Linked DNA regions of Homo sapiens: region 2 is linked to region 1. A link means that fine-mapping ties the variant in region 1 to the expression of a gene that starts in the linked region. Tissue or cell type: CD4 T cells. Region 1 holds a variant in brackets; the other region holds the start of a gene. All regions are shown on one strand. Distances are from middle to middle.

What was found. PIP is the estimated chance that this variant, and not a neighbour inherited with it, causes the effect.
Region 2: it holds the start of SCART1, and the variant in region 1 is fine-mapped to the expression of SCART1 in CD4 T cells (BLUEPRINT, PIP 0.94).

What each region holds. Positions count from the first base shown.
Region 1 is chr10:133,409,868-133,412,546 of GRCh38, reverse strand. All of the region lies in intron 9 of MTG1 (mitochondrial ribosome associated GTPase 1), which reads right to left. Among named protein-coding and RNA genes, the nearest start is that of SPRN, 13 kb to the left of the region's middle. The variant T/C (reference allele first, on the strand shown) is at 1,091.
Region 2 is chr10:133,452,851-133,455,529 of GRCh38, reverse strand. It overlaps SCART1 (scavenger receptor family member expressed on T cells 1), which reads right to left and starts at 1,585. Exons shown (of 12, transcript NM_001396050.1): 1 at 1,466-1,585. The coding sequence starts at 1,532. RefSeq lists an enhancer at 1,811-1,860.

The DNA.
Region 1 (2,679 bases):
GCAATAAAGCAAGAAAACAAAATATGGCATCTGGACTGGAAAAGAAAAAGTAAGATGATCTTTATTTGCAAATGACATAATTGTCTAGGTAAAAAATCTAACTGGAATCTACAAAGAGCTAATAGAATGAATAAATGAGTTTAGCAGGGTTACAAGATACAAGATCAATATACAAAAATCAATTCTACTTCTGTATACTAGCAATGAAAAATCAAAAGTGAACATAAAAACAATACCATTTACAATAGTATCAAAAATAGCGAAGAGTTAATAGAGGGAATGACATCACCAAATAGAGAAGTAGAAGCAATCTGGCTTCCCTCACCCTCTCAAAGAAAACCAAAACCAAACATCCAGTGCCAAGAATATCACCAGCAATATTCCAGAACTCAAATCTGAGGATGAGACCAGAGAAGTGAAAAAAACTCCAGGCAGAAAGTAAGCTGCAAAAAACCTCTAAGCAAACATCCAAGAAAAAAAAAGCCAGACAGGAAAGCCTGGATAACAAATCCTTCAATGCAAAACCACAGACATATGTGCACAAGAAACAACAGCTAACGGAAAACCGCGACCTTCTCAAACAGACAAAGCAAAGAGCCAGTGGCCAACCCTAATGAGATGGCAACGTGTAAGCGCTCAAATCAAGAATTCAAGGTAACAGTTAAAAAAAAACTCAGCAAACTCCAATAAAACACAGAAAAACAACTCACAAATTTGTCAGACAAATTTAACAGAGATTGAAATTAAAAAAAAAAAATCAAACAGAAATCCTGGAAGTAAAAAATACATTTGCTGAAAAATATATTAGAGGCTCTCAACAGCAGAATGGACCAAGCAGAGGAAAAAATCAGTGAGCCTGAAGACTGGCTATTTGAAAACATATAGAAGAGGAAAGAGAAAAAAGAAGAATGAAAAGGAATGAAGAACACATGCAAGATACAGAAAACTGCCTCAGAGGAGCAAACCTAGGAATTACTGGGGTTCAAGAAGGAACCGAGCAAGAGGAAGGCACAGAAAGTTTATTCAAAGAAATAATTACAGAAAAATTTTCAAACCCTCAGAAAGACATAAATGTCCAGGTACAGGGAGG[T/C]CAGAGATCACCAAACAGATTTAACCCAAATAAAACTACCCTACAGAATATAATAATCAAACTCTCAAAAGTCAAGGACAAAGAAAGAATCCTACAAGCAGTAAGTAGTACAAGTAGTAAGAGAAAAGCAGCAAATATATTTATAAAAGAGCTCCAATGTAACTGGCAACAGACTTCTCCAGGAAATCCATATAGGCCAGGAGGCAATGGGATGATATATTCAAAGTGCTGAAGGAAAAAAAAATGCAACTGTCAACTGAGGACACACCTTCAAACATGAAAGAGTAAAGCTGAGGGAATTCATCAGACCCAACTTTCAAGAAATGCTAAAAAAAAGTTCTTCAATCTGAAAGAAAAAGACACTAATGTACAAAAAGAAAACATGTGAAGTATAAAACCCACTGGCAAAAGTAAACACACAGACTCAGAATAATACTGTGAATGTGGTGTGCATTCATTCACATCTCTAGTGTGAAGACTAAAAGAAAAATGTATCAAAAATAATAACTACAGCAACCTGGAAAGAGAGAGCCAATATAAAAAAAAATAAATTGAAATAAGAAAACGTGAAAATTTGGGGGAAAGATGCAGTTAAAGTACAGAATTCTTCAGTTTCTCCTTTGTTTCTATTCTTTCCTCTGTGATCACAGATAAGGTGTCATGTGTTTAAAATGATTGTTTTTTAAGAGAGGGGTCTCACTCTGTCACCCAGGCTGAAGTGCGATGGCACGATCATAGCTCACTGCAGCCTCAAACTCCTGGGCTCCAGCAATCCTCCTATCTCAGCCTCCTGAGTACCTAGGGTACAGTCACAGAGCACCACGCCCAGCTAAAATAACTAAATAACTTGTTATAAATATAAAATGCTTTTTGTAAGCCTGATGGTACACTACATATAATACATAGACTAAAAATACAAAGCAACAAATTAAAACATACCAACAGAGAAAATCTCTTAACCACATGCGAAGGAAGACAGTAAAAAAGGAAGAGAGGAGTTACAATCAGAAAACAAGCAACAAAATGGCAATATTAAGTCTTTATCCATAATAATATTGAAAGCAAATGTACTATATTCTCCAACTAAAAGACATAGAGTAGGCCAGGCACAGTGGCTCACATTTGTAATCCCAGCGCTTTGGGAGGCCAATGTGGAAAGATCATCTGAGGCCAAGAGTTCAAGACCAGCCTCAGCAACATAGCAAGACCTCGCCTCTACAAAAAATAAATAAATAAATAAATAAAACAGCCAGGTGTGGTGGCACACGCCTGTAGTCCTAACTATCAGGAGGCTGCGGTGGGAAGACTGCTTGAGCCCAGGAGTTCAAGGCTACAGTGAGCTATGATCACACCACTGCACACCAGCCTGGGCAACAGAGTGAGACCCTGTCTCAAAAACAAGCAAAAAACACAGAGTGGCTAAATGGATAAAAAACAAGATCAAACTATATGCTACCTATAAGAAACCGACTTTACCTATAAAGACATACGCAGACTGAAAGTCAAAGGGTGGAAAAACATATTCCATGTAAACAGAAACCAAAAAAAAAAAAAAAGAGCAGGAATAGCTATACTTACAGATGACAGAA
Region 2 (2,679 bases), 43 kb before region 1:
TGTGGTCCCAGAGCAGCCTCCAGGGCCCCTGGAGGACTCTCCACACCCAGAAAAGAGCCTCCCCGATGGCAGTCAGGAGCAGAGGGGGGACCCTGCCTGGTCCAAGATGAAGACCTTTCCCTCCCACCTCCTGGGGAGCCTTGAATCTCCTCTCTCTCAGTCTTCATCCATCCCTCCACACCCCCCAGCCTCCTCATCACCCTCCCCACCTGGTTCTTCTCAGGACATGGATGCGTGCTGGTGTCTGCAATTTTTTCTTTTTTAGACAAAAGTCTCGCTCTGTCACTCAGGCTGGAGTGCAATGGCACGATCTCAGCTCACTGCAATGTCCACCTCCAGGGTTGAACTGATTCTCGTGCCTCAGCCTCCCATGTAGCGGGAATTATAGGCGCCCACTACCACGACTGGCTAATTTTTGTATTTTTAGTAGAGATGGGGTTTCACCATGTTGGCCAGGCTGATCTCGAACTCATGACCTCAGGTAAACTGCCTGCCTCAGCCTCCCAAAGTGCTGGGATTACAGCCATAAGCCACCACGCCCGCTATGAATAGCTTTTCATTTTATATTTTCTAAAGCTATTTCTTGTTGTAATAGAGAATTCCGGCCCTTGTGCATGCGATCGTTGACACAAAAGCAAATCCCTTCAACCCCAGGCTTCCATCCATCTGTGGCCACATTGCTGCCTTTCCTTCAAATCCTAACCTCCTCTGCACTTTCTGCAGCTGCCCACAGACTTCCACCCCACCGCTGGGGATGTGGCTCCGTCCAGCACCAGGTCACCGCCCTGCTGGGCACCTGGACCAGCCTTGACAGTGAAGTGTTCCTCAGCCTCAAGGGCACCCTCCCCTGCCTCCCGCCCAGCCCCACACTCACATCATGGCTCCATGCCCACGTACGCAGGTCCCCGGGGCTCCCTCTCACCTCCAGCCTCTCCTGCTGTTCCTTCTAGCTAGACCCCCCTCTCTACACCTCCCTGCCCCTGACCCAGCAGCCCTTCCACATGGCTTCACACCCCAGTGTCTCCACCTGGGTGCAGCATCTCCATGGGACCCCATGCTCAACCTCACTGCCAGATGCAGCCAACCCTCCCACCTCCTTCCCAGGACCTCAGCCCTGCTCCAGGGCACGTGGATGGAGCAGCCCCCGCAGGACCCCTCAGGACTCTGTTGATCAGGGTCATTGGGACCAGACACTGGGCCGTGTCCCTCATTTTGTCCAGGGCCTGACCCAGCCCTGAACCCTGGGTTCCAAGCAGTGGGGCTAGGGTCTGGGGGCCCTGAGGTCACAGGGATCCAGCCATGTGGAGTCACCTCCCTCCTGCCCCAGCATGTCCCACCCACTCTGGGCTGAGTGAGACCCAGGCAGACGGCAGGTCACTGCAGGGACCCTCATGCCCCGGGGCCTGGGCATCAACAGAGCTGATGCCTCCAGAAAGTTCCATGGATGAAGGAAGCAGAAACTTACCAATGGGGACTGCCCAGAGATTCAGAAGAAGGGGCCCGAGTCCCAGGGTCCAGAGAGCTGCCCTCATGGTCCCACAGCCCTCTGGGCTTCAGCAAGCTCTCGCTGCTTAGCTGGGGCAATGGCAGAGGTCACAGCCCAGAGTCACATATACAGAAGTGGGAGCTGCCAAGGACCTCCAGGGTCCAATGGGGACAGCCACAGCCTTTCCAGAGCGAATCAGCAGCTCTGCCTCTCAGCCGTGAGCAGAGCAGCCAATGCCTTGCTGGCCTGAGCATCACCAGACATGGGGAGGGTGCAGGCTGTGGGTTTCCTCCCACACTGATCAAGCTGCTGATGGGACTAGACCCAACCATCAGGCAGAGATGGTCCAACCTGCCCACAGCACAGCATCAGTGAAGCCCTGCGTCTCTGCCCTCCACCCGGGCCCGTCGGCTTCAGCCATGCCACCACCACAGAAGGCAGTGGCCCCAGACAGCCAAGGAGGCGTCCTCTGTGCCAGCAGATGGCACTAGCAGAGTTAGGGGTAGGGGTAGGATTAGGGTTTGAGTGGGAGTCCCAGCAGCACCAGAAGAATGACACGGAAGAGCTTTGCAAGAACTCTGAGAACTGAACTGTCGTTGGAATGAAAACCCTTGAGAGAAGATACAGTTAAGAATCACTCATCATATGAAGACCCAGGGACACGACCATTTCAGTAAGAGACAACCAACTAAGGGCGGCACCAGGAAGAGTCAGGTGTCAGAATTATCTGACAAGGATTTTAAAACAGGCATCATAAAAATGTTTCCACAACAAATTGCAAATGCTCTTGAAATAAGTGGAAAAATTGAAATCTCAGCAAAGAAATAGAAGTTATAAAAATGGAACAGGCTAGGCGCAGTGGCTCACGCCTGTAATCCTAGCACTTTGGGAGGCTGAGGTGGGCAGATACCTGAGGTCAGGAGTTCGAGACCACCCTGGCCAACATGGTGAAACCCTGTCTCTACTAAAAATACAAAAATTAGCCGGGCAGGGTGACATGCACCTGTAGTCCCAGCTACTCGGGAGGCTGAGGCATGAGAATGGCGTGAGCCCAAGAGGCGGAGGTTGCAGTGAGCTGAGATTGCACCACTGCACTCCAGCCTGGGTGACAGAGCAAGACTTTGTCTTAAAAACAAAATGAAACAGTGGTAAGGATGTAGAGAAATGGGACCTCTCAGATTTTGCTGGTAGAT